2 linked regions of the Homo sapiens genome follow. The protein of the gene in region 2 purifies or fractionates together with the protein of the main gene of each other region. This does not show direct contact. Each region holds a gene or a part of one and is shown on either strand. Other genes may lie near its edges.

Region 1 (15,186 bases), about 130 Mb from region 2:
CACGCTTTAGCTATGGCCCTCTGGGCTGCCACAGTGTTTTTCTCCTTTTCTAGGAACTTGGTATGTTGCTTGCCTACCAAAAAGAAAGGAGGAAGGAAAAAGACCCCACAGCACCTCACATAACCCCAGAAGAGGATTTCGAATTTCGATCCTTTTAAAATCCAAAGCGGGGTGAACTTGTTGTTGCAGCTGCCTTGCCAACACCTCCCCCTGTCTGCTCCTTGAGAGCTCTCTGCTCTGCTGAGAAGGCCTCCAGCTGGTCCGCCTACTGCTCCAGTGGAGTTATAGCCTGGCATGATGGGTGGGAAGGGGCTGGAGTGGGCTGGAGCTCCTTCAGGTCAACTGAACGAGGTGAGAGTGGGGCCCCAGAGCGGAGGGTGTGCCAGAGGACACACACGGAGCAGTGAGTCTCTCTGCACCACACTACCCTGCCACTCTGGAGCGCCCATGACTCAAGTAAAAGGCAGCCAGAACCTCTGTCTGCCCTGAGACACAAAAAGGGGGATTTATCAGATTCAGGAAGTACAACCAGGACACTGGGTATGAGTGAGGCATTGGCATTCTGCACCCTGAGGAGCACGCACTCACACTCACAGCAGAGCTGCTACAGCCACGCCGGCGTATGCAGGGAGGTGCGACCCCTCGACTACACTCCCAGGACCAAGGGGCCCTGGGGAAGTGAGAGTTGGAAGCAAATCCCCCAGTGACACAAAGGGCCAGGAGTGCTGGTGTGGTTAGCAGGCATGAGCCCGGCAAGTTCCCATGACAACCCTGGGATGTTCATTTACAGCCAATGAATGGCTGCTGTGGAAGGTCTGGGAGCTCTCTAGTCCAGCTGGAGGGCACATGGGCTCTGCAGCCAGATGGATTTAGGTGCCCAAAAAATATGCTCTCTCTTTGTGAACAGTAAGCCTGTAGTCCACAGCAGGATGGGACTGGCCCAAGGCCCCAGAGAGGGCCAGGGGAAGGGGCAGGACCCAATTTCCCAACTTTATGACAACTGGCTCTCCACAGCCCAGGGCTGGTTTGCTCGGGGCTCCCCACCACCTCCTCTCATGATGCAGAGCTATGGCTGGGGGACCGCTGGGCCCTCACCAGGGGTGTCCTCGTTGGCCACTCAACATGCAGCAGGCCTCATCTCCAGAGATGTGAGCCCATGGGTCCTGTTCTCCTGTCTCTCAGCGACAGGCTCTCCAGTCCTGGCTACATTAGCACTGGGGTGTGCCCGTGATGCGCCAAACCCCATCATATTACGCAGCCTCACACCCACTGATTTGCATCTCAGGCCAATCTTCCCAGGAAGCCAGGATGACCTTCACTTTCACAGATGAGGAAATGGAAGCTCAGAGAAGTGCTTGGTACCTCAATATATGAATTCAATCAGTAAGTACCCAGAGGACCACACTCTCACGGTCTCCAAGATAACGAAGAAGTGGCACTGGGAAGTGAGCCAGGTCTGACCCCCATGTCAGTGCTGCTTCCGTCCTCCTCAACTCACTCACTCAGCCAGTCCAGGGTTCAAGCAGCTCTGGAATTTCCTGTTTCCCTCCCTTCCCCCTGCAGAGCATAGCAGGGCAAGGTTCTCATCCCTTCACTTTCTCAGCCTGGCAAATCCCAACTCATCCTTCACGAATTGACTCAGGTGGCAGCCACTGTCCCTCCACATGTCCCTTGCCCTCTGCACGCCAGTCCTCCACACATGATACCATCTTCTGGTCAGTACACCATCAGATGGTGGGCTCCAGAGGGTAGTGGGAACCACTGAGCGTTTCTGTCTGCAGCCCCAGCACCAGGTGGTGCTAGTCGAAGGATGGAGAATGCTTAGCAGCTGAGGTGCACAGCATCGTCCCGATGGCCTCTCAGGCTGGAGCTATGGGATCTGGAACCCCCAGCAGTAATTCCCCATCAGTTGAGATGGGGCACAAGGCAATGCCCCCTCCCCGGAGGCCAACCTCCAGGCAGCTTCTTTTCCTCTGACCACTGTGGCTTTGGCCTCTTTAGAGGACAGTGGGCCTCGGGCCCTTCCTGGGCTGGGCTGGCCACATCATGGAATGAATCACCCACCACAACACTTCTGCTGTGAGATTCAGGCTGCCTTTGTAAGCCCTTCAACCTGCTCAATGCCGAGTTGAGAGGTGACAGAGGGGAGCTCAGAAATAATGGGTGGGGGCGGAGTGGGGGAGATGTGCCCTTCTCAGCCCTGCATTTCAAGGATCATGGTAGCCCACAGAGTGGGCCCACTTCCTGCTGGTCCTGGGTTCCTACATGGTTGGTGGTCCCTCTAACATGGTGAGACAGTGGTAGCACTGTCCCAGATCACTCCAAAGAGGCCCAGGACCCTCTGTCGAGGCGGGATGACAACCTGAAACCAGGGCCGTGCTTGGTGTCCCTCTGCTGCTGGTTCACCCCAACAAGGGTGGGCCGCCAGATCCCCTCCAAGTCTAAGGCATGCTCTCCTTGCTGCTGAGAGAGCTGGTGGCATTTTACAGGTAACCACTCACAGCTGCATCCCTCTCCAGGAGGCCCTCTTAGCCAAAAGAAGCTGCCTTGCCTAAGAGAATGCCCCTCCCTAAGGACAGCAGACATTCAGTGACTGATTGCTGTGGGGGCACAAAGGCCAAGCGCGGGCCATCTGCAGGCCATCCCACTCTCGAGTTTTTCAGGCTGAGGCCCTGCTGGGACTTCACTGCGGTTCAGCTTCTCCCTCTGCCTAATTCCACCCCCTCACCCTGAGAGCACTTCACAGTAAACCTTCTGCACGTAAACCTCAGAGTCTGTTTCCTGAGGAAATTGACCTATGGCAAGGCATCATTTTGCTCGTTCCTTCACCCCATTTGTCCATTCAAAAAATATATATATTTTTGTAGAGATGGGGTCTTCATTATGTTGCCCAGGCTGGTCTCAAACTCCTGGGCTCAAGTGATCCTCCCGCCTCAGCCTCCCAAAGTGCTGGGATTACAGGCGGGAGCCACCGCACCTGACCATTTAGTCCATTTTTATAGTAATTTTATGAGTACCCACTAGGAGCCAGGTGTGACAAATAAATGGACAAGGGAGATCTAAAGTTCTTCCCAGAGCTCCCTTTCTGTGGCTCAAAACTCCCAGTCTCAGCAAGCCCCCAATTCCCATGTTCATCCCATCCCGAGCCCTGGGATTCCTGGAGGAAGTGGGTTGTTTTGAGTCGGAATCCTCATGAGGACACTTCAGGGCACTGGAGAGTTGCAATGTGTAGCCTGCCCCAGCCCCGGGGTAACTGTATGGATGTAGAGACAGGGATCTTACCTCTTGTTGAGCACCATGTTCCCCAGCTTCAGGTCTCTGTGCACGATATTTTTCTGTAAAACAACAGGCGTATGGTTTACATTGTCAATGTGAGAGGTGGGGTCAGGGCCCACCCTGTAAGATGGGGGCTCTCCAGGTGTTCGAGAAGGCAGGAAAAATTCTATGATGTGTCTCTTTAGGCTCCAAGCACAGGCAGATCAGGACAGTTCTAAGTTCGCGTGACCTGCGCGTCTGGATGGGGAATGAATGTGCACCTAGTCAGTGTCTCCCCATCTGTGGCAGCTTCTTTAGCTCTTTCTCCCCTCAGGGCAGTGGCTGGTGGCGAAAGTCACTCATTTTTTCCCCTCCATTAGACATTCCATGGACAGGATGGATCTGGGGGTCGGGGAGGAGCTGTCATGGCTTTGTGACTAAGTACCACAGGCTCGGCCCACAGAAGCGGCACACCGGGAAGAGGCTCAGGCTCTCCTATCCTTTGTCCCAGCGTGCCTGACACCTCTAATCCTACAAAAAGCTCAGATGTGCTGTAGTTGCTTGGGTGGGTATCTCACTGTCATCACTACATGGGGGTGGACACCAGGCCTCTTAACTGATGGGGAATTAACACAGTTGGCTGTGGTAATTACCACAGCTGGGCTGCAGGTCAGCCCTCACCAGGAAGGTGGCCTGCAGGGTGGCACTGTGCCTCACCCTGTGCACCTGCCATTCAGTCACTCTTCTTTTGGACACTCCCAGCTGCAAAGCACACCTGGGTGCACAGGACAGAGCTGCCTTCTGCTCAGCAGCAGCAAGAAAGGTGGCTTTCTGTGGCCAGAAGGCGCAGCAGCAGGGTGTGGCCTCACCTGGTGCAGGGCCTCCACCACGCGGACCACGTCGTAGAAGATTACCACAGTCTCCCTCTCGCTGAGCCTCTTCTCCTTGATGACGTAGTGCTGCAGGTTGATGAGGTCAGCGGTCTTATCGCTGAAGTCATGAGCACAGAGGCAGTCCAGGACGAGGCAGATGCGCTTCTTCATCTTCTTAACCATCCGGCTGGATTCTGTGTCCTCAACGATTTCACAGGTGCGGTCCTGGGAGGCAAGGGGGTAGCGCAGGGCTTGGCTGTGAACTTGGCAGGGCCAAGGCCAGGGCCTGGGACTCTCCTCTGGAGTGGGACACTCAAACCAGTGAGGGAGCCTGGAATTAGCCTGCATGTGCGGGCCAGAGAGGACTGAGGCCTGGGCAGCCTAGACCATGGGGCAGGTCAGCACTGTGCAGCCTCTTGTGTGCCAAATGCCAGGACCAGCAAGAGGCTGAAGCTAAAACATCTCAGGTGAAGGCTTAATGCTTTGATCATAATGCAAAGGATTCAGATCAGGTCTGGGCATTTAGAGCCCAAGGGCCCTCTTAGCCCAGTGCTCAAGCAGCAAAAATGGGAATCCATGGCACCCAGATTCCAGTAATCACCAACAGAACCCCCTTTTGATATCTAAGATGGCGGAAGTTAGAAAGAGGTCAATCTTGGCAGGCTCCAGAGGCCATACAGGTTCTGTGTATCCAGGACACCTGTTTTCCTCAAGTGCCTTCCTGCTTTCCTCTTTTCTCAGAAAAGAGGACTGTCGGGATGCAGTACTCCCGACAGTCACATGATGGCTAAGAGTGACTCTGACCTCAGACTGCTGGGTTCAGGCCCCAGCCACCTTGTCTTAGCTGTGGGACCTGGGGCAGTCTGCTTACCCTCTCCAGGTCTCTAGTTCCTCATCGGTAAAAGGGAGCTAGTAATCTTTCCCCCACAGCCCAAGAGAAGTAAATAAGACAATCCATGTCCTGTGCTTAGGTCATGCACTGCCAGGGCTCAGTAAGTGGGTACTGCCACCAATGTTGTGGCTGCGAGATGGACACAATGGTAGCAAACTCTAGACCCATTTTCCTTGCTGAAAGGTATTTCGAGTAAGACAAAAAACAGGGGGACTTCATCTGACCAGCTTGAGGAAGTCCTTGGTGTCATGCGGGGTAGACTGACTGTCCCCTCTGGGGAACTCCTGAAGGACTGAATATCCACATTTCTTCTTTTTCTTTTTTTTTTTTTTTTTTTTTTTGTGAGACGGAGTCTCACTCTGTTGCCCAGGCTGGAGTGCAGTGTCACGCTCTCGGCTCACTGCAAGCTCTGCCTCCCAGGTTCATGCCATTCTCCTGCCTCAGCCTCCCGAGTAGCTGGGAATACAGGTGCCCACCACCATGCCCGGCTAATTTTTTGTACTTTTAGTAGAGATGGGGTTTCACCGTGTTAGCCAGTATGGTCTCAATCTCCTGACCTCATGATCCGCCCGCCTTAGCCTCCCAAAGTGCTGGGTTTACAGGCATAAGCTACCTCGCCCGGCCTCCACATTTCTTCTTAAGAGCAGGACCACACCTCATATTTGCTTTTCCTAGCACAGTGTCTGGCACACAAACAGTACACTAGAAACACTTCTGATCACCCAGGTTCTCTCATCCAAAATGACATGAACTAAGGCCAAGCTTCTGAAGATATCACAGACAAAATACCAAGAAACCACAATCACCCTCAATTTGATTTCATGTTTATGGGGATACTCTAATTTTTGGAGTTGCCTAAAAATACTCTGAGTCACCTCTAATTGCAAATCTAAGAACAAAGACCTTGCTGGGGTGTATACATGGGGATGGGAAGTGTTTTCCCTTTGTTTTATTTTAGGAACTCAAGCTGACAAGGAGTTTTTATGCCTGAACAGCAATGATGATGACAGTGTTCCAGCAGCAGCTCAGTGCTTGACACAATCTCATTCATCGTCCCAACCACCAATGGAGGTAGGTACTGTTATCACTATCCCCATTTTATAGATGGGGAATCTGAGGCCTAGAGACCTTAAGTGACTTGCCCAAGGTCATACTAGCTGAATCCAGGACTGTCAGCATCAAAATGTGACTGCTCTCTCTGGCACTGTGTGCCTCTCAAACAGCAGGTCTGTCTTAGCAAGAGCTGGTCCTGGCCAGCAAACGGCTGAGGGCTCAGTGGATGCTCAGCTGAGGAATGGGGCTGTTCCCAAGCCTGTGAAGGAGGCCTCCCAGTCATTCTGAACCCAACTCTTCATTTCTGGAGATACAACTTCAGTGCTGCCCCAAGAATGGTTCTTGTCAGGTACACACTGTTAATCAATACCTTTCCTAAGGGATCTGACCACCTGTTCTTCTGCCTGCTCAGGCATTTCAGTTTGTCCAGTAAATGTCTCAAAAAAAAAAATTTTAAAAAAAAGGACAAGGGGGCCCTTTTGAGATGGAGTCTCGCTCTGTCACCCAGGCTGGAGTTCAGTGGCACAATCTTGGCTCACTGCAACCTCCACCTCCCGGGCTCAAGCGATTCTCCTGCCTCAGCCTCCCGAGTAGCTGGGACTACAGGTGTGCGCCGCCATGCCCAGCTAATTTTTGTATTTTTAGTGGAGACGGGGTTTCACCTTGTTGGCCAGGATGGTCTCGATCTCCTGACCTTGTGATCTGCCCACCTCGGCTTCCCACGTTGCTGGGATTACAGTTGTGAGCCACCGTGCCTGGCCTGGGCCCGGGTGTCTTTAAGTGACTTCTTGCTTTCCTCTTTTCTCGGAAAAGTGGCTCTTCAAAGAAAGCCTGGCTGCTGTTAAGATGCAAACTGTGTGCATTCCTGGCTAGGCTATAACCATCCCCACAGGAGCACAGCTAGTGTGGCCCAGCCTGACTTCCAGCCCAGCCCATCTCACCCACCCTGGAAGTCCTGATGTACCTAGCATGGCAGGGACACCCAAGGGTCACGTGAGCTGCTCGTATGGCTGTGGCCCCAGCAAGTGGCAGCCCACAGAGCCAGCCAGAGGTGAGCGCGAAGGGTGAGGGGGAAGGCCGCTCACCTGGAAGAGGCCGTGGTGGTGCACCACGCCATCCTGCGTGTGCAGGAGAGACAGCAGTGAGTACTCGGTGTGCAGCAGCATCTTGCCCTGCCGCTCTTCCTGGCTCTCTATGCCTTGGTCCCCCCTCTCCTCCAGGGTCAGGATCTTTAGGAAAGCATAAAAATAAAACCAAAACCAGAACACCTCACTTTACACAGCAGAACAACCAGAACGGGGGAAGCAGGGGGCTTTTTACCACATGACATTTGTGCACAATGCACACACAAACACACCAAGTGAAATCGTTTTTCTTAATATGATGGTGATGTAATTTATGCACAGACAAAACTCTTTAAATCAGAAGTTGTTCTGAGGGAGACTGTGAACTTGATTGCTTCTCGGGAAGAAATGGCGCTACTCTTGTTCACAATGACGCAGGTGTGAAGGTGGAGGAGGGAGGAGTGGGTTGGCATGACAGGCCCTGTTCCTGAGGCACCCTCACCCCCATGTCTCACTTACCTTCAGCTGATAGAAGTCATCCGTGCCATCTTTCCTCGCCAAACACTGCACTATGCTTGGCACCGGTGAGTTGCCCAGACGGGGACCTACGGCACAGAGAGCTGCTGGTCTACTTTTCAGAAGCCCTGGCTGTCACGACGCCAGGTCACCACGTGGTCTTTTACTAGACCTTCTATTCAGGAGGGCACCATAGCTCATGTGTACTGGACTGACCCTCCAAGGTCTCCTGGTGGAGAGTTTTCAAGGTCTCCCCTCCAAAAATAGAGGGGTATGTGTGCTCTGCCTGGAGCACATCCAGCTTTTGCAAACACATTTCCCAAAGAGAGGTTTTCAACCCTGGGTGCACGCTGGAATGTCTAGTGAGCATCTATTAAAAACAAGAGATCCAGGCTGGGTGTGGTGGCTCACACCTGTAATCCCAACACTTTGGGAGGCTGAGGTGGGAGGACTGCTTGAGCCCAGGAGTTTGAGACCAGCCTGGGCAACACAGTGAGACTTCTTCTCTACAAAAAATAAAATATTGGCTGAGCATGGTGGAGCATACCTGTAGACCCAGCTACTTGGAAGGCTGAGGTGGGAGGATCGTTTGAGCCCAGGAGGCTGAGGCTGCAGTGAACTGTGTTTGTGCCACTGCACTCCAGCCAGGGCAACAGAACAAAGCCCTGCCTCAAAAAAATCAACAAAACCCAAGAGATCCTGGATCCCCTGAAGAGCAACTTCAGGGTGAGGATCCAGGAAACTAGAGCCGCAACAGGTTCCCTGGAGATTCTGATACAGCCATCTGGCCCCTGTCCAAGTGCCAGCTTTGGGGACTTTCTGTACTTCTGGAGATGCACAGTGCTCACTGTCCCGTGACAGCACCTTGCCCAAGCTTTGAGAGTGGAAATCTGATGTCACAGTGCCACTGCTGCGTGAAAAACTCTTAACGAAGCTCCGCTGCTCTTGGTTTTCCTTTTTACCAGTGCAATGTTCACAGACCCACTGCTCTTAACATACCACCCAAACTCCTTTGTCTGGCCCCCAAGGCCTTGCATGATTCAGTTCCCGCCCACCTTTCTAACAGGATGTTCCATTCCCTGTCCCATGCCACACTCCAGCTCCTAATGTTGGGCTCCTAGTTCCCAACATGGTAAGCCCTTTCCTGCTGCTGGGCCTCTGCAGTGCTGTTTCTTCTGTCTGCAATGTTCTTCCCCAGCTTTCCCCACAGTTGCTGCTTCTCCTCCTCAGGTGTCAGCTCATATGGTGTTTCCTCATAAACAGGCCTTTCTTGCCTGCCCTACCTACGGGCCCTTCTCATCTCACGTCATCGTGGAACTTCCTTCAAGGCACTTGCACCACCGGTGATGACTGGTGAGTTGTTTACTCTGTTTCTCTGTGAGGGCAGGAACTTGTCTTATTCACTGCTGCATGCCTGGCAAACAGCACAGGCCTGGCAAACAGCACAGGCCTGGCACGTAGTAGGTACACACCATTAAGTATGTACTGAATGACTGGAGCTGGAACTATCCTGAGCCTGTAAGTCCAAAATGCTGTCCCAAAGTAAAACTCACGCCCAGTCTCTGGCTGCAACCCTGACTATAAGCAATTTGGACTGCTGGTCCTTATGCATCATGCAGAAATGCTTTGCTGCTCCTCTGGCCAACTGCCAACACCTGTGCCAGGATTTCTGTGCCAATTTAAATAAATTTGGGGGGCTATACAAAATGCTTTGTGAAATTATGCCATCCAAGAATGGCATAAAGCAGTGCCTTGGATGATAGATCTTGGGTTTTCATTTTATTTTATTTTATTTTATTTTATTTTATTTTATTTTTTTAGAGAGAGAGTCTCGCACCGTTGCCTAGGCTGGAATGCAGTGGCGTGATCACGACTCACTGTAACCTCAAACTCCTGGGCTCAAGTAATCCTCCTGCCTCAGCCTCCCAAGTAGCTAGGACTACAGGCATGTGACACCACACCCAATTAATTTTTATATTTTTCTAGTAGAGATGGGATCTCACTATGTTGCCCAAGCTTGCAAAGTCTTGAACTCTTAGCCACAAGTGATCCTCTCACCTCAGCCTCGAAAAGTGCTGGGATTACATAAGTGAGCTATTGCACCTGGCCAGAGCTTGGGTTCTAATGCAGCTAATGACTTCTAATGGGTGTGCTTCCTGTGAGCACGTCACCATTCTAGGGGCACACATAGGATTCTCTGGGGGGAGAGTCGGAGCCTAGCTATTGGCTAAGGCTGATCTAAGGCTGGTATGGCTAAAACACTGACAGCCCCTGGTACAGAGTGACCCAAGGCTTGGGTCTTCCACTGATATAAACATATTCTGTTTCAAGTAGTGAAGCTAGGGACCAAGCCTGGGGCAGGGCAGGACCACACACTGCTGTGGGTGGGCCACCTCACTCTGATGTCTGTAGGTCAGATCATGCGAGCCAATGTGCCCTGCCCCTGCCTCCCAGCCCACCCATTTTTCCCAAAGGTCAGAGGCTTACCAAGGATGAATGGTCCAGCTCTCTTTGCATTATTTCCAGAAATCCCACTTCCTAGAGCCTTGGCCCTGGCCGACGTTTCCCCAGCTCCTCTGTCTGATGCTCTCCGCTTCATTCTCAGCTCTAGACAAGACAGAAAGACCCCTTCTCACTGAGTAAGTCAGCGAGTTTCCTTATGCTAACCCAGCCTGCAGGCCTTTGACTTGGGATGCATCACACAGCTGCCGCTGCTGCCTCCAACTCCTCCTGCTACCAGGGGAGCATCCAAGGCTCCAAGTGACAAAGAACCACAGCTCCTTTACTTGGGATTAATTAGATGCTAAAGGTGGACATCCTTTAAGGCAGCATATACAGGGTACAGAGGCGGGGAGCCAACACACCACCACCAAGTGGCCAGTTAAATTCAGAGAGGAGAAAACTGGGCTTTGTGCAGATGCTAATGCCAAACAGAGCCCCAAGAGACTACCACAGAGACAGAGAGGAGAGCCAGCCCCATCCAGCTGAACCCCAGCCCTGAGGTGAGCAACTGTTCCCAAAGTGAGACCTGCCCTCCAAATACCTACAGCCTAATGACCCGAGGTGCCCATTCCTGGCCCGTATCTGGACAGTGGGCCCCAGGAATGGGATGCTTGTTACACGAGGCCTGGGGGCTTCTTATGCCCACGGAGTTTGATGACTACAGCCCTGAGAACCCCTCTCCCCATCTTTCCTTGACTCTCTGGTCCTCTCAGATGAAAGAACCCCCCAAAGTTGTCAATGGCAGGGTTTACTTTCTCTTCCCTCATAAACTCAAACTTTTCCTGAATTACTTTTCAGAAAAAGAAAATTCATTGTGTATTTAAGAGTCAGTTAAAGAACACTACTGAAGATCACTGAGCACTCTGATTTGCCTGATAATCCCGAGATCCTCCTGCGTAAAAATGAAAGGCGGACATTGGGGCCAGAGGCTAAAAGACACCTCTGGACACAGATTTAAAAATAACAGATAAAAACACAAAAGAGGAGTTGTCTCTTCCAGCTCTCCAAAGTCAAACACCTTGGCAAAGCAGGATCCGGGGGGGACAAGGAAACAGATGTGTACAGACGAGTTCCACATGGGGAAGGTCAGGGTCACAGGATGCCCAGTGTGGGTGCAGGGCTCCGGGAAAATTTCCCTAAGGATACAGGAGTGGGCCAGGCAAGGGGCAAGGACCTTCATGGTAGGAGGGCCTCAGTGAGCAAACATGCCCAGGTAAGAAATGGCATGCAAGCCACCAACGCCAGGTAGTTTGTGTTGCTGAAGCATCCAACGCGAGGCAGGGAGTGGTGAGAGGTGGCCCAGGATAGAGGCCTGACACCCACCTTAGGAGTGTAGCCTTTACCCTTCCATAATGGACTCAAAAACACAGAACTCCAGCCTGTTCCTGTATTTTTCTTCATATAAAAGTAACTGATGTTCTCTGCAGAAACATTAGAAAATACGCATGTGCAAAAATAAGAAAATAAGGTACCCATGACCTTACCTCCCAGATATAACTGCTGTTAACATTCAAGCATGTTTTTCCTGTGTGTGACTGTGTGTATGCTTATATAAAGTTTTATTATTACAAACATGTGGACCACACTGTAATGCTATTTTATGTTTCCTTTTTTCCCACCTAAAATACATTAAGGGAGGTCTGGCGCATTGACTCCATGCTTTTAATCCCAACACTTAGGGAGGCCGAGGTGGGTGGATCACCTGAAGTCAGGAGTTCAAGGCCAGCCTGGCCAACATGGTGAAACCCCGTCTCTACTAAAAATACAGAAATTAGCTGGTCCTGGTGGTGCACACCTGTAATCCCACCTACTTGGTGGCTGAGGCACGAGAATCGCTTGAACCCAGGACACGGAGTCTACAGTGAGCTGAGATCACGCCACTGCACTTCAGCCTGGGCAACAGAGTAAGACTCTGTCTCAAAAAAAAAATTAGCTGGGCATGATGGTGGGCGCCTGTCTCGGGAGGCTGAGGCAGGAAAATCGCTTGAACTGGGGAGGCGGAGGTTGCATGAGCTGAGATGGCGCCATTGTACTCCAGCCTAGGGGACACAGCAAGACTCCATCTTAAAACAAACAAAAACCATTAAGGATAAATTGTATAGTATGTGAAATACATCTCAATAAAGCTGTAAAAAACAAAACAAAAACCCATTAACATCCCTGCATCACAATATTCTTTTGCAACATCACTTGAGATAGCTACACAGGCTCCTTGGTACAAATATACAGTGATTTCTCTGACCATTCCCTATTTATGGACATCTAGGTTCTTTCCATTTAAAAAGAATTAGCCGGGCGCAGTGGCTCACGCCTGTAATACCAGCACTTTGGGAGGCCGAAGCGGGCGGATCACCAGGTCAGGAGAGCGAGACCATCCTGGCTAACACTGTGAAACCCCGTCTCTACTAAAAATACAAAAAAAAAAAAAAATTAGCTGAGCATGGTGGCGGGCCCCTGTAGTCCCAGCTACTTGGAAGGCTGAGGCAGGAGAATAGTGTGAACCTGGGAGGCGGAGCTTGCAGTGAGCCCAGATCACACCACTGCACTCCAGCCTGGGTGACAGAGTGAGACTCTGTCTCAAAAAAAAAAAAAAAAAGAATTAATAGTCACGCACATACAAGTATACATCTTGTCAGCCAAGCGCGGTGGCTCACACCTGTAATCCCAGCACTTTGGGAGGCCAAGGAGGGAAGATCACGAGGTCAGGAGATCGAGACCATCCTGGTTAACACGGTGAAACCCTGTCTCTACTAAAAATACAAAAAATTAGCCGGGTGTGGTGGTGGGCACCTGTAGTCCCAGCTACTCGGGAGGCTGAGGCAGGAGAATAGTGTGAACCCAGGAGGCGGAGCTTGCAGTGAGCTGAGATCGCACCACTGTACTCCAGCCTGGGTGACAGAGCAAGACTCCGTCTCAAAAGAAAAAACAACAACAACAACAAAAATATACATCTTGTCATACTTATCTGTCTCCCTCTGGATAAATTCCAAGAAGCAGAATTGCAGAGTCAAGTGGGGCACATTTAAAAAAAATCCCCATTAGGCTAATACAAGGGGGACATGTTTTTAAGGTATTTGACAGATGCTGCCAGGCTGCTTCCAGGATGGCTGTGCCAATTTACAGTCCAGTGAGTTCCAGAACTTACACCAGGACTGAGTTATTTCCTTACTCTTATAAATGGCTAATTGGGTGGCCAACAAAAAGCATAGCATTTTAAAATCCGTAATTCTTTCATTATTTCTGAGGTTGAATTTGTTTCATATGCTTACTGGCTGTGTCTATTATTTCTTTTATGAATTTCCTTTATATTCTTTTTCTATTTTTTACTGCTATGTATTAGTGTTACTGATTTTTAGAAACTCTTTCTATGTAAGGATGTAACTGACATATAGCTTTTTCATCTTTTTTTTTTAATTAAAAAAATAAAAAGAAATGGTTAAGGGCTGGGTGCGGTGGCTCATGCCTGTAATCCCAGCACTTTGGGAGGCTGAGGCGGGAGGATTGCTTGAGCCCAGGAGTTCGAGACCAGCCTGGGCAACGTTGCGAGACCCATCTCAATAAAATTAATATAACATTTACATTTTTTAAATTAAAATTAAAAATAAGGTTGACTTTTTATGTAGTTAAATATTTCTGTCTTTTCCTTTAGTTTGTTTTTGCTGATACTCCTGGAAGCCGTCTCCTACTCTGAGGACAGGTGTGTCTTCACCAGTAAGGTGAAATCCTCACATGCTATTGTTTTGGTCCTTATTCTTTTTTTTTTTTTTTTTTTTGAGACGGAGTCTCGCTCTTGTTGCCCAGGCTGGAGTGCAATGGCATGATCTTGGCTCACCGCAACCTCCGCCTCCCAGGTTCAAGTGATTCTCCTGCTCAGCCTCCCAAGTAGCTGGGATTACAGGCATGTGCCACCACACCCACCTAATTTTGTATTTTTAGTAGAGATGGGGTTCTTCCATGTTGGTCAGGCTGGTCTCGAACTCCCGACCTCAGGCGATACGCCCGCCTCGGCCTCCCAAAGTGTTGGGATTACAGGCATGAGCACCGCGCCCGGCCTGTTTTGGCCCTTATTCTAAACCCTAGGAGACTGACTATATGTGGTGCACCAGAAAGTAAGAGGGATGATCCATTGCACTGCAGGTCTAATCTACCAGGCTCCCAATTTGTTTTCAGAGCTGTGCCACTGGGGAGCACAGCCATGACTTAATTTTGAGAATAACTAGGATTGTGTAACTCACTGAGCCCCAACAGTCCCCAGATGGAGCAGAAGCCACAGTTAGGCTTGGCTGGGCCTTCTGCCAAAGAGGCTCATGCTGGAAGCAGATTCAGTGTCATTCACATAAAAGCAGAGAAGGGTAAAACTGCTTCTAGAAATATCTTTAAAAGCTGGGCAGTAATGTGTCTGGCACTGTGTTCCTGCTCTTTGCTTGCCTAACTCCTACGCATCCTTCTCAATCTAAGTATCACTTCCTCAGAGAAGTCTTCCTTGATAACCTCATGACCAGTGGGTCCCAGTTAGTCTCACTCATGGTGGTCTGTAATTTTCCTCCATAGTACTTTCCAGATTTTGTAACTATGTATTTATTTGTGTTTATATGCTTAATGTCTGCCCCCCTCCACCAGAAAAATTCCACCACAACTAAAAATTTCACAAGGAAAAACAAATGTATAAACATATATATAAAACCACTGCAGCCCACTGCCAGGCCCAGCAGATACTCCATGAGTGAACGGATACCTTCCCTCCAGCTGGTGACAGTCATTGCCAGGGTCGGCGGCCCTGGGCCTGTCCTGCGCTGCCCACTGCCTCCAATAGTAAGTTGGTATCACCACCCTTCTGATCCTGTTCTCTGTCTTCCCGGGAGCAGTAAGCCACCTCTTTCTTTCCCAGGTCCCTGGAGACCACCATGGAGGCGCGTAACATCTGTGTAGACGCTGCCTACGCGCCTACGCACAGGCATGGTCTAGACAACAGTTTGCAGGGAGCAGCTGCAGCACAGACAATCAGTGGGCTCAGCCTGACCCGCCCCTCCCC
Region 2 (15,186 bases):
ATGAACTCTCTCTCTTGTCTACCAGGCTGGGGTGCAATGGCATGATCTCGGCTCACTGCAACCTCCGCCTCCTGGCTTCAAGCAATTCTCCTGCCTCCTCAGCCTCCCGAGTACCTGGGATTACAGGGATTACAGGCACCTGCCACCACACCCGGCTAATTTTTGTATTTTTAGTAGAGACAGGGTTTCACCATGTTGGCCAGGCTGGTCTCGAACTTCTGACCTCAGGTTATCCACCTGCCTCGGCCCCCCAAAGTGCTTGGGATTACAGGTGTGAGACACTGCGCCCGGCCGTTCATTTTTTAATTGAATTGTATTGGTCTTTTTCTCTTTAATATTTTAGGTGCTTTATTATATATTAGGATTATTAGTCCTTAGTTTGTGAAATAAGCTGCAAATATTTTTTCCCCAATTTTTCTTTTGTCTCTTTGCTTTATTTCTGGTGTTTATTTTTCCCCAGGTGTACTGTTTTCTATAGCCAAATTATTGATCTTTTCTTTAATTGCTTTTTTGTTCACTCAAAGGAAGGTTTTCACCACTGAGAGGTTATAAAATAATTCACTCATATTTTTACTCTTTTTTTTTGCTTATGTTAATTTTTTGTTTGGAACAATCTCAAATTCACAGAAGTGTTGTGAGTACCTTGCAAATAACTTGTTTTTTCCTTATGCATTTCAGAGTAAGTTACCAGTCCGATGCCCCTATCACTCCAATACTTTAGTGTCTACTTCCTACAAGCACAGATATTTCTTAGCCATAATACAAGCACAAAATCGGGAAATAAACATTAATATGTTACTATAATCTAACCTTCAGCTCTCGTTTAAATTGTGCCAGACATCCCAGAGGTGTCCTTTAGACTATCAAAAGGACCCAGTTCAGAATCAAGCATTGCATGTGGTTATCTTGTCTTTTTAATCTTGTTCAGTATGAAACAGTTCTTCATTAATCCTTGACTTTCTTCACCTTGTCACTTTTGGGGATTAGGAGTTAGTTATTTTGAAGAGCATTTCTTAGTCGGGTTTGTCTGATGTTTCTTTAGGATCATATTCAGGTTTTATATCTGTGGCAGGAATGTCACAGAAGTGCTGTCTGTGTCCAACTTTTGATGACCCAATTTTGATTTTTTCTAATACTGATTATTTTCACTTTGATCCCTTCATAGATGTTATCTGCCAACCTATTCCATTGTGAAGTTGCTTTTTCTCTCTATGCCATACATATTTTGTGAGAAAGATACTTTAAGACTATGTAAAAATATCCTGTTCATCATCACACTTTATATTTGTTCACTTATTTGTTAATATCTGTATGGATTCATCGTTTCTTATTTTATTCAACAGATTATAATCCGTTACTATAATTATTTATTCTGATTCTTACATTGTTCTGGATTTGGCCAGTGGGGGTCCCTTCACACCAGCTCTTATGTTCTTTTAACATGTCTCCTTTGGGCTCTGATGTCCTTACACTAGGCTGTCTTCCCATGCGGATGCCCTCCTCACTCTGCTGTGACTCCTCATGCCAGGCCGCCTGCCATATCAGTGCCCTCTCTACCCTTCTTGGACCCTGACATTCCACCAGGCTACTTCTCTGCGTGGATGGTGGTCTTGCTTTACCCCATCTAGTGGCTTAGGATAAAATTATTCAGGAAGGAATATTTTCTAAGTGACTATGAATAAGTATTTATCATGAGATATTATTTTTAGTGTTTAGATCTCGGATCCATTTGAAATTACCCTTGTGTATTATATGAGATACAAATCCAATTTTATGTTTTTCCAAATGACTATCAAAATGATTATTCTAGTACCATTTATCAAAAAGTTCATCTGATTTCAATTATATGCATGTATTTTAAATTTATGTAAATGGCATTATAGTAGATATCTTTATATTATTTACTTTTAAAAATCAGCACAGTGTTTTTAAGATAAATTCCTATTGCTCTGTGTACATCAAATCTGTTGCATCTAACTCTGTACAACATTCAAGTATGCATTCACTACATTTTTACCTACACCATAATGAATATTTTAAAAAATGTTCCCTTGCGGACCCATGTGAGAAATCCTTTAGAATATATGCCTAGAATTGCTGGGTAGTAGAATGTGCAGGTATTTAATTTGACAAGTGCTTCCATATTTCTCTCCAGGATCATCATAGTACTCTGTGGGCTGGCAGCAGTGCCTGAGGATCCCTGTGACTTCTCTCCTGATACTTGGCATTGTCTGCCTTTTTAATTTTTACTCCATGGCACAATGTGTTTTTTTGTTGTTTGCTTTTATTTTGTTTTACTTTGTATTTCTTTGGTTATTGTTTTCAACATTTATTTACATTCTTATGAGCTTTTTGGACTTTTTTTCTTTTATACATTGTTTATTCCTGTCCTTTGCCAGTTTTTCTACTCAGTTGTTGTCTTCTTGTTTATCAGCAGGAATTCCTCATATACTTGAAATAGTAAAACTCTTGTTGGATTTAGACATTCAAATTGCCTATATCTTTTCCCTTTCTATTATCTATTAACTTTGTAGTCTTTATTAAGTATAAATAGTTAATTTTCAATTACTCAGGCTTATCTTTTTTTTTCTTTTCCTTTATGGCTTATTTAAGAAGTCCTTCTATGCTTTTAGAGCACAGAGGTATTCTGCATTTTCTTTTATTAACCATATGGTTTACCTTTCACATTTAGGTTTCTTAATACTCTTAGACACCACTTTAATATGTGGTATTATGTAGGGATCTAGCACTAGGTAGGGATCTAATTTTAATTTTCTCTATAAAATGAATCAGTTTTCCTAACTGTATTGTCTTTATAATCACTTGTAATCACTCTTTTCAACAATATTGTATATCTCTCTGTTTACTGAAATCTTTTATGCCTTAGTTCAGTTGTGTAGTTTTCTTCATATGGGTCCTGCACATTCCTTAGAAAATTTCTAGGTATTTTGTAATTGTTATTGCTATTGTGAGTGAAATATTTATTTATTTGTTTTATTTAAATCTTTTTTATTTTTAACTTTTTTTGGGTACATGGTAGGCATATATATTTGTGGGGTACATGAGATGTTTTGACACAGGCATGCAATGTAAAATAATTAGATCATGGAAAATGGGGTATCCATCCCCTCAAGCATTTATCCTTTGTGTTATAAACAATCCAGTTACATACTTTTTGTTATTTTAAAATGTACAACTAAGCTCTTATTGAGTATAGTCACCCTGCTGTGCTATTAAATAATATGTCTTATTCCTTCTCCTTTTTTTTTTTTTTTTTTTTTTTTTTACCCATTAACAATCCCCATCTCACTACCAGCTTCTCAGTACCCTCCCCAGCCTCTGGTAACCATCCTTCTACCCTATGTTCATGATTTCAATTGTTTTGGTTTTTTGATCCCACAAATAAGTGAGAACATGTGATGTTTGTCTTTCTGTGCCTGGCTTGAAATATTTATTTTTTATTATGTTTTCTAAGTGTATATTAATACAATATTTTCAAGTCAAATTTTTTTTTCAGTGGATTGTTACATGTGCTTCAAGTATATAGCATATTACCTTGCTAAAAGGCACGCTGTCTCTTTTGTTTTAATGTTTTTTAAATTTCTTCTTTTAGTGTAATTATACTAGAATTACAGAAAAAGCAGGTATCTATTTTTTATCCTGACTTTAATTGTAATGCATTCAGCATTGGACTTGGCTGTATAATTACTGATAGCTTTTTAATGTTAAGAAAGTATTCCTCGGATCCTTGTTTTCTAGGATTTTATTGAGGAATACTTGTCGAATATTATCAAATACCTTTTAAGCATCAAAGGCCGTGAAGATAATAGTCTCCTCCCGTGTTACCTTGTACTCTTTGGTTTCTTGGAAATGTATTTTAATACACTCTACATATTGCTCAGCTTACATGCTGAGTAGGTGTTAAGGATGAAGGAAGATGCAATTGTCACTTGTCACTCTCACCAGTGAGACTGAGAGCATTTCTTTCTCCCATATCCTCTCAAGGTCATTTAAATTTTTTTTTATGATAAAAAAAGTTTAAATTTGCCTTTGACTACCATTTGCGTTTCCTTTTCAGTGAAATGGCTGTTCCTGCCTTTTGTCTATTTTTCGCAAATATTTTCTACCAATATATATCTTTTAACTTTGTTTATGGTCTAGTTTTTATTGTTAAATAGTTTACTTATTATTTGTTCAAATCTATTTCTTCTTCCTTTGTGGCTTCTGTGTGTTCTGACTTAAGAGGGTCTGCAACACCCTGAGAGTAAACAAGTATTCTCTTAAATTTTATTTTTATATTATAATCTTATAGATTATTTTGAAGATGTTATGAAGTAGAGATTATGTCTATTGCGTGATCATGCATGCCATCTTTTCTGTCTGAATTGAATTGCTACTTCTATGTTGTTTCTTTATTCTAACAAAATGAGATAGATTCACTGAATATTAAAAGACTTTGGGAAAATGCGAATGTTATCTTTATGTATCTCAATCATTATGAATTCACCTACTAAATTAAAGAAAATAGCACTGTTGGCTGGGTGGGGTGGTTCACGCCTGTAATCCCAGCACGTTGGGAGGCTGAGGTGGGTGGACCATATGAGGTCAGGAGTTTTAGAGCAGCCCAGCCAACATGGTGAAACCCCCTCTCTACCAGAAATACAAAAACTTAGCAAGGCGTGGTGGCACACATCTGTGGTTGTAGCTACTCGGGAGGCTAAGGCAGGAGAATTGCTTGAACTGGGGAGGCAGAGGTTGCAGTGAGCTGAGATTGCGTCACTGCACTCCAGCTTGGGCAACAGAGTGAGACTCTGTCTCAACAACAACAACAACAACAACAACAACAACAACAACAAAGCACTGCTCCATTCATGCATCTTTCTTTTACAACATTTGGAACAAAGGCAGTATTACAAAATAGAAAACAGAAAAGAATACAAATAAAATTATTTTGCTTTTGATATTCTTTTAAGACCAAATAAGAGAGATTATGGAGAAAGGATATTGGCATTTTAACTGCAACCTTATACTGATACTGAATGTTTGTATGACTACGAACCAAGTTTTATATGTGTGTGTGTGTGTGTGTGTCTCTGTGTGTGTGTGTGTGTCTCTGTGTGTGTGTGTGTGTGTGTGTGTGTAGTTTGTAGGAAGAAATGTAGCAACAGATCAATGATTCATATCTTTAACAGGATGGCATAGACTTACTCTGCATTTTGAGTTATTTTTCCTTTGGTATAGATGGATCATGCTGATAGTCACTTATTACTTAATATATATATACAGTTTCTAATATACCTTTCCTTTGAAGTTACCCTGAAGTGTTTTTCTGTTTATATGTGGGTCTCCTCCTTTTCTATGCAATTTGCTGCTTAAGGATTATACTCATTAATTTTTGTTTTTATTATGCTACAGGAGGAGTTGGATTTGTCTTCTAGTTCTCAGATGTCTCCCCTTTCCTTATATGGTGAAAACTCTAATAGTCTCTCTTCAGCGGAGCCACTGAAGGAAGATAAGCCTGTCACTGGTCCTAGGAACAAGACTGGTATTACTCTATCTCCTAACTTCTGTTATTTCTATTTCAGATTGAGCTTAGGTTCCATTTCTTAAAAGAAAATGCTGGATTAAATTTATGTTTATTAGGCTGGCTTGCTGTTTTTTAATTGGTGGACCTATATTGTTTGTTGTGAGTGATTACCGTGGAGAGGAAAGGGGAGAAATAATCTTTGGTTGTCTCTGTCTTTACAGGTGAAAGATACTTTAAAATAGACTCAGACCCCACCATCTTCAGGAGAGATTTCAAAGTTTCAGTTAAAGATAACTGAATGGAGCTATGACATTTGTTACCTCATTAATCTCTGGGTGTTATCCCGTGATTTTAGCAATTCTCCTTTACCAGTTAGTGTGTCCCATTCCCAAAACTGCAGCTTGGTTAGAAAAGGAGGTAACAGTTTAAGTACTTTTCTTCAGTTCATTCAGGTATATGTACTGTAGCTATGCTTAAACTCCAGTTAAAGATTGTTAATCGAAGTTAAGATAATGTGTAGAGAAAGGTGTGTGATAGAATCTGTTTTTTAGGGCTTGCGTAATTGCTTTCACATTGACTTGTGGTTTGTCTGGTTTTTCTCCAGAAAATGGACTGACTCCAAAGAAAAAAATTCAGGTGAATTCAAAACCTTCAATTCAGCCCAAGCCTTTATTGCTTCCAGCAGCACCCAAGACTCAAACAAACTCCAGTGTTCCAGCAAAAACCATCATTATTCAGACAGTACCAACGCTTATGCCATTGGCAAAGCAGCAACCAATTATCAGTTTACAACCTGCACCCACTAAAGGTACCTGAGCAGAATTTAAGGCTGTGTAAATTTATTTGGAGGGCAGTAAGGGTTGTGTCATATGATTTGTTTTAATTCAGGTTATAATTTCTGAGCACGTGCTGTTTGTCAGGAATGTCTTTGGTTATGAGGACGTTGCAGAGATGACTAATGTGTGGTTCCTGTCATAACAAGGGATATAGCTCTCCAGACCAGTTACATCTGATGGTTATTTTGAAAATCTGGGACACTTTCTTGGTGCCATTTTATTCTGGTGGATAAAATACAGGAACACAAATTTTAAGCTAGTTGAAGGCAGAGTTCAGGTCAGCCAGATTTTTGTGGCTGTGAACTTTTTTTGTTTTGAAGGAATATTTAAAATAATAGGGTCCATTTCAGGTGTGTTATAGCAATAGAATCACACCCTTAATCTCTGAGGAGGCTGCATGGTTTAGTAAACAGTATATTGACCTGGTCATGAGGAGACCTGAACTCTGCTTTCAACTAGCTAAGAATTTGTGTGTTTCGTATTTTATCCACCAGATGGCCTCATACACTTGTGATTCTATGAGAGGTTTATGTCATTATTGAAAGAAGTTCAAGTCTGAGGATTTGGTACTATTCAGATATGGGAGTCATTTCCGTATGGAGATCTCTTAGGTAGATTAGTCATCATTGTACTCATACTGATATCTGTATACACTGGGTACAAGAAAACTTTTGCAGCATTCTTATCTCTGGATTTAGTTTGTTGGCACCAGATATGACTAGGCGATAATGGGGTATGGGTTGTAAATAAACACCAATGTTACATTTGTACTGTATCTCCAATTGTGAATAGGTAGCTCGTTTTTTGGAGCATAGTTTTAATGAGGGTAAATTTGATAAATTTAATTTCCAGATACTCTTTTAGCTTTGTTCTATTACATGGTCATAGACAATATGACATTGATAAAAAGAAGACCTAGATGAGAGAATGGATGAATCAGTGAAAATTCATCCATCAGTCCCACCAAAAATAAACAGACAAACAAACAAACAAAAACCAGTTTGAAATGCCTGCTCTCTCAGTACAAAGTCAGAACTGCTGCCTTTTCCATCTGAAAAGTAGCATTCCTATAGAATAGGTATTCTTGTGATTTATAAATGTGTATTAAGGGTTCATGAACTCCTTGAAACAAAATGCAGGATTTAATGTATGTTCATATGTGGATTATTCTAGGGATAGTCTCCAAAACTTTCATTAGGATCTCATAAGGATCTGTGCCTTCCCAAAGGCTAAGAATTTAAACTAATGAAGAACCTCATTGTAGTTCCCATAAGCTATTAAAATACGTCTATACAAAAAGTCTGACATTAATATGACTAGCGTATAAAGCAGGGGTATTCCTAAGAATTTGCCCTTAGCAGATCATTGACTATGTTTGAGTGATGGAAGATCTTACCTATAATAAGAAGACAAACTGTTCTTTTCTGAGCAGTTTATCAGTTCCAGAAACCTGAATTACACATTATTTGAAACTTCAATACTTTCCTGTCATCTGAAGACTATAGTTATTTTTTTGTGAGCATGTGCTAATATGAGGAACTGCACCTTGCCTGTTTTTTTTCTTTTATTTGAGACAGAGTCTCGCTGTGTTGCCAGGCTGGAGTGCAGTGGTGTGATCTTGGCTCACTGCAACTTCCACCTCCTGGGTTCAAGTGATTCTCCTGCTTCAGCCTCCAGAGTAGCTGGGACTACAGGCACGTGCCACCATGCCCAGCTAATTTTTATATTTTTAGTAGAGACAGGGTTTCACCATGTCGGCCAGGATGGTCTTGATCTCTTGACCTCGTAATCGCCTGCCTCGGCCTCCCAAAGTGCTGGGATTACAGGTGTGAGCCACCGCGCCTGGTGCCTTGTCTGTTTTTATAGTACAATCTAAATAGGTGGTATTATTATAATAACATACAGATTTAAAGTATGTTTTTCATTTATTTGAGAATGGGGAGGAAGAAGGGAAGTATGGGCAAGACATTATACAGTTAATCATGTTAATACTAGTAGTAAATATGTTACCATTGAAAAAGAAGAGGTAATTTCCACAGGTTTAAGACTGAGATTCTCTAGCTTGGAATGTAAAACTCTTCACAATTTGGCTCTAGTTTAGTTTTTTGTTTTTTTGTTATTGTTGTTTGTTTGTTTTTAATAGAGACAGGATCTCACTATATTGCTCAGTCTGGTCTCGAATTCTTGGGCTCAAGGGATCTACCCACCTTGATCTCCCAAAGCTCTGGGATTAAGGCGTGAGCCACCATGCCTGGCCTCCTAGTTTAGTTTTCGAACTTTATAATATTACTCTTTTCTATAAATCCCTTCTTCTAGCTCAACTAATCTGTCATTGTCCTTTGAATTCTCTTGTTTTTCCTAGTTTTTTGGCTCACCATTTTCTACCAACCAGCAACAACTTATGCCTACTTCTACTTCTCAGTCCTCCATGTCCTTTAAGACTGTTTTGAGTAGTGTAGATGAGAGATAATGAAAGCCTGGAATATCAATGAAAGTGGAGAACCAGGATGAAGAGTAGAGATGTTAAAAGTGTAGAATCTTAGAGATTGGTAATTGGATTGTGTAGAAGGAGGCTGAACGATAGAGAGGAAGGTGTCTAGGATGACTTCCGTTTTTCTATCTTGGGGCTTTTTGGGTAGATGATGGCGAAAATTATTGAAATGGGAGACAGAGGTAAAATATGTTGCCCAGATCACTCTGCTAATAAGAAGTGGAGCCAGAACTTGAGCCCAGGTGGTCTGGCTCGGAGTCTATGTGAATAATCACTATACTGTATCGCCTTAAAAAAAAAATGACAGATGTATTCCTTGCTCTCAAGAATTCTACACTTTAATTGGGGGATTAAATTCACATAAACAGTTAAATAACAGTCACTGTGATAACTAATAAATTAATAACTCATGCAGTGCCCTTATGGAAGCTATTATTATATAGAAAAGGAGATTAATAATAATAATAATTGCATTTAAGTTCTTACTATGTGCCAGACACTCTTCTAAGTGCTTAAGTGCATTATCTTATTTCAAATAATATTTACACATTATTTGAAACTTCAGTATGTTTCTATGATTTATGGTGATGGGTTGTGATATCTCCATTTTTTAGATGAGAACGCTAAGTACAGATTATTTGCCCTAAGTCACACACCGATGCTGTTTCAGACAAAGTAGGCATTCAATAAATGTTTGATACATAGTTTAAAATCTTTGAAGAAAGTTTAAAAGAAAGAACTATCAAAATCAGTGAGTTACACATAGTCAAAAAAATATATGGCATTGAATCCAGCCATGTTCCGTTAAGGGGGATTTGCATGTAATGCCAGAGAGGATTTTGAGCATGCTAAAATGGATAAACAGCCTTTGGAATGTCCTTTTTAACTGTTTCCACACTAGGAACAGTAGTAACTATGTTCAGCTGCTATTTAAGGCCCCAAACAATTCTTTGCATTGTAGTTTGTGGCCTGGTCAGCATTTACCAAGTCACCATGAGAGTTTTTTGTTCTTTCACTTGAACATATTGTCATAGAAATTTAGTTGTTTCCCCTCATTCTGTGTTGAACCCAAACATGCCTAGAATATTTAGAGTATCCCTGATTTAGCTGCTGGGTAATTTGAGGATAGTTGGGTACTCTGGGATGAAAAGGCTTGATACAATATGGGAAAAAAAGGAAGCAGCAGTGGCTTGGTAGGACTCAAGCCACATTTGGCCTTGCCTTGGTATTCTTCCATCTCCTTTGTGTGATGCGGTCGTCTCAGCAAGGAGACAGTGGTAATTACACAATTGGTAGTACAGATTTGGATTATTTTTCTTAATTAGTTTAAGAAATATTACAAAGCCCTCTGTACATGTTATCTGCTAGGGCTTTAAATCTGTAACTGTAGCTAGAAATAGGATTCTTTCTTATAAGTTGCCTAATTCATTATATTTACACCTCTTCTGTTCTTTAAAATAGTCCCAAAGTTCCCTGAACAGTGTTTAATTTTGGGGAGGGATCTTTTAATCATAATTTTAAACTCAGAGGATGTAGAACATGGCTTCCTATAATACTCTTCTCAAAGTATTGGTTTAAGTCAGTGGTTCTCAGTCTGTATATTGTGGACCCTGGGATGTGGGTGATGGGGGTAGTAGCTTTATGGCATTTTGCAAAGCATCTGCAAATCCATACTTGAAGCAAGCATTTTCTGTAGACCAAATAATTTATTTCATATATCTTTGTACAGCTCTTCAAATTTTTATAGCTATACTTCTGACTAATAAACTCCAAGTTCATTTTAAATCTTCACTAAATTCTTAGCAGCCTTTTTCCATCATGTATTTTCTCAGTACACAGAAGCTGAAAGGACAACCTTGATGGTTTTGGGTGACCAGGATATTATTTTATATTAAAAGAGAGCCCTTATATTCAGGAGCCTTTGGGGAGAGACTATGGGTTTTCTAGGTGTAGAATTATATCATCTGTGTGAGAGATGGTTTGACTTCCTCTCTTCATATTTGGATGCCTTTTATTTCTTTCTTTTGCCTGATTGCTCTGGCTATGACTTGAGCACTTGGGAATTCTTGTTTTTTGGTTTTTTTTTTCACATTATGATAAATATATATTTTCATAGTGCCAGATTTACTGTAATTTCTTATTGTTATTAAAACCTAACACTTGGTCATATGCTATTTACTTTATGTGTTTCTAATTTTTATTTGCGTATTTGGCCTAAGCATGTTTATATCTGCTTCTGAGTAATTTCTGCATTTTATATGTTTTTACTTCATAAAAGATGGAGGCCACCTCAAAACAAATTAGGCATCAAAGGAACATACCTCAAAATAATAAGAACCATCTATAGCAAGTCCACAGCCAACATTGTAATGAGTGGGCAAGAGCTGGAAGTACATTCCCTTTGAGAACCAGAACAAGACAAGGATGTCCCTCTCACCACTCATATTCAACATAGTGCTGGAAGTTGTAGCCATAGCAGTCAGGCAAGAGAAAGAAATAAAAGGCATCCAAATAGGAAGAGAGGAAGTCAAACTACCTCTCTTCACAGACGATATGATTCTATACCTGGAAAACCCATAGTCTCAGCCCAAGACTCCTAGATCTGATAAACAACTTCAGCAAAGTTTTAGGATACAAAATCAATGTACAAAAGTCAGCAGCATTTCTATACCCCAGTAATGTCCAAGCTGAGAGCCAAATCAAGAATGCAGTCTCATTCACGATAGCCAAAAAAAGAATATAAAGTACCTGGGAATACAGCAAGCTGGGGAGGTGAAAGATCTCTACAATGAGTTACAAAACACTGCTGAAAGAAATCAGAGATCACACAAACAAATGGAAAAACATTCCATGCTCATGGATAGGAAGAATCGATAGTGTTAAAATGGCCATACTGCTCAAAGCAATTTACAGATTTAATGCTATTCCTATCAAACTATCAATGACATTTTTCACACAATTAGGAAAAACTATTCTAAAGTTCACATGGAACTGAAAAAGAGCCTAAATAGCCAAAGCAGCCCTAAGCAAAAAGAACAAAGCCAGAGGCATCAAGCTACCTGATTTCAAACTGTACTACAAGACTACAGTAACCAAAACAGCATGATACTGGTATAAAAACAGGCACATAGACCGATGGATTAGATTAGAGAACCCAGAAATAAAGCTGCACCCCTGCAACCATCTGGTCTTTAACAAAAACAAACAGTGGGGAAAGGACTGCCTATTCAATAAATGGTGGTAAGATAACTGGCTAGCCATATGCAGAAGATTGAAACTGGATCCTTTCCTTTCAGTGTATACAAAACCCAACTCAAGATGGATGAAAGACTTAAATGTACAGGCTCAAATTATAAAAACCCTAGAAGAAAACCTAGGAAATATGGTTCTGGACATAGGCCTTGTCAAAGATTTCATGATGAAGACTCCAAAAGCAATCGCAACAAAAACAAAAATTGACAAATGGGATCTAATTAAACTAAAGAGGCTGGGCGTGGTGGTTCACACCTGTAATCCCAGCACTTTGGGAGGCTGAGGGGTGCATCACTTGAGATCAGGAATTCAAGACCAACCTGGCCAATATGGTGAAACCCCATCTCTACTAAAAATACATAAATTAGCCAGGCATGGTGGTACATGCTTGTAATCCCAGTTACTTGGGAGGCTGAGGCAGGAGAATTGCTTGAACCCAGGAGGCGGCAGGTGCAGTGAGCTGAGATTGTGCCACTGCACTCCAGCCTGGGTGACAGAGCTCAAAAATCAATAAATAAAAATCAACTAAAGAGCTTCTGCACAGCAAAAGAAACTATCAACAGAGGAATAGGACAGCCTACAGAATGGGAGAGAATATTTGCAAACAGTGTATCCAACAAAGGTCTAATCTCCAGAATCTACAAGAAACTTAACAAGCAAAAAACAACCCCATTAAGAAGTGGGCAAAGGATATGAACAGACACTTTCAAAAGAAGACATAGACATGGCCAATAAGCATATGAAAAAATGCTCAACATCACTAATCATTAGAGAAATGTAAATCAAAACAACAGTGAGATACCATCTCACATCAGTCAGAATGGCTACTATCAAAAAGTTGAAAAATATCCGATGCTGGCAAGATTGCAGAGAAAAGTGAATGCATATACATTGCTGGTGGGAATGTAAATTGGTTCAGCCACTGAACGTAGTTTGTAGATTTCTCAAATAACTTAAAGTAGAACTACCATTTGACCCAGCAGTCCCATTACTGGGTATATACCCAAGGGAATATAAAGACACACGCACACATATGTTCATCACAGAACTATTCACAATAGCAAAGACATGGAATCAACCTAGATGCCCATCAGTGGTGAACTGGATAAAGAAAATGTGGTACATATACACCATTCAATACTACACAGCCATAAAAAAGAATGAAATCATGTTCTTTGCAGCAACATGGATGGAGCTGAAGGCCATTATCCTAAGATAATTAATGCAGGAACAGAAAACCAAATACTTCATGTTCTGTCTTATAAGTGGGAGTTATACATTGAGTACACATAGACATAAAAAGGGGACAATAGACAACAGGGGCTACTTTTGAGGGTGGAGGATGCAAGGAGGGTGAGAATCTAAAAATTACCTGTTGGGTACTGTGCTCATTACCTGAGTGATGAAATAATCTGTATGCCAAACACCTGTGACATGCAATTTATCCATGTAACAAACCTGCCTGTCTACCCCCTGAACCTAAAATAAAAGTTGGGGGAAAGAAAAACTGAATCCAAGGGAAAACGAGAAGGTAAAAATGTTTAATGATCATTTATGCCGAAGTATTAATACATTGTATCTACTCCAAATCCATGAAATTATTTTTAGATCTTCTTATCTGGGATAAAATGCTGTTTATTGAAATTCTGCTACTTTCAGTGTGTTTTTTGAGGCCATCTGAAACAAGGGCTTTGCTTTTATAAGTTATCTTTTTTAGCCAAGACAGATGTTCTTGACAAACAGGTGTTCTGAAGCTTTATTTTGATTTTTAGTTTTCCCCGATCCTTTGAAATATTGAGCTGAGTTTTACATGGGTCAACCTGTCTGAAAGCATAATGCTTTTTTTTTCTTAAACAAATTATAAATTTACATGATATTTTAGTTGCCAGTTATTTTAGTACCTTCATTTTGTTAGATAGGCTCAAGCAGCTGTGGATGTTAGGCAAGGCTTTCAGCACCTTATAAAAATCTGCCAGATCTGAAAGGAAACACTTAGCAGGCAAGTAAAATTTTTAATAGATTAGTGTTATGAGTTGTATAAGTCTTTAGGTTAATGGTACAGGTTTAGTACCCCTTAAATGAAATGCTTGGAACCAGAAGTGTTTCAGATTTTGGGTACTTTTGGATTTTAGAATATTTGCATATACATAATGAGATATCTTGGGGACAGAACCCAAGTCTAACATGAAATTCATTTATGTTTCATGTATATCTCATACACATAGCCTGAAGGTAATTTTATATAATATTTTAAATAATTCTCTGCATGAAACCAAGTTTGCATACAGTGAACCATCAGAAAGCACAGTTGTCACTATCTCCTGTGGACAATCTGTAGTTGTTTGGCACCACCATCATTCCTGGCTCTGAATTCATATGCTACTGACAAGCAATCATTTTCTTACACTTATTCACAAATTCACACCTAAGAACTTAACAAAAATTATGACATACCATTAATACAGTGAAAAAATAATGTGTGCAGAGTAACAAGGCAGGACAGTAGAATCACCAGAATACCAGTGTCAGCTACTACACAACAGCAACAACAAAAAATGGCAGCTTTCAGTCTCTGCCTTTGATGCTGTTTTCATTAAAAGCCTACTGTACCCTCTATTTTATGTCTTCAGGTGAGAAGAAACATCAGAAGCAGTTGAGAGACTGGAAGTGGGTCCTCTAGGGATGAGGAGGCATTCTGCTGGATGACTTCTAAAAATGTTTTCTATGGAGTCATCTGCCTCATTAACAAGTTTTTGTTTTAGAAGTCTCTTTTTGATTTTGTAAACTGACATGATTTCTTTTTCTGTTATGACTGTATGCTGCTTTAGTCCTTCACTAGGCCCATCACACATTTTTACCATGTCATCTATAGGCACTTTTTCTGCAGCGTTAACAGCATCATCTTCATTGTCATTATTATAGATTGAGTATCCCTTATCCAAAATACTTAGGACCAGAAGTGTGGAGTTTTCCACTTGTGAAGTTGTGTCAGCACTCAAAAAGTTTTGGATTTTGGAGCATTTTGGATTTTGGGTTTTTGGATTAAGGATGTTCAACCTCTAATAATTCTCGTCAGATTA

The links.
Region 1: the proteins of ATF6 (region 2) and STK40 purify together in Homo sapiens (affinity purification with mass spectrometry; 2 studies listed by BioGRID and IntAct, with this or other methods). This does not show direct contact.

The regions. Positions count from the first base shown.
Region 1 is NC_000001.11:36,351,082-36,366,267, forward strand, and holds part of STK40 (serine/threonine-protein kinase 40), read right to left. Parts: intron 10,260-15,186; 5' UTR 10,252-10,259; coding exon 10,140-10,251; intron 7,757-10,139; coding exon of another isoform or gene 7,742-7,756; coding exon 7,656-7,741; intron 7,302-7,655; coding exon 7,158-7,301; intron 4,353-7,157; coding exon 4,125-4,352; intron 3,336-4,124; coding exon 3,283-3,335; intron 1-3,282. UniProt on the Homo sapiens protein: May be a negative regulator of NF-kappa-B and p53-mediated gene transcription.
Region 2 is NC_000001.11:161,785,993-161,801,178, forward strand, and holds part of ATF6 (cyclic AMP-dependent transcription factor ATF-6 alpha), read left to right. Parts: intron 1-5,415; coding exon 5,416-5,545; intron 5,546-6,131; coding exon 6,132-6,335; intron 6,336-15,186.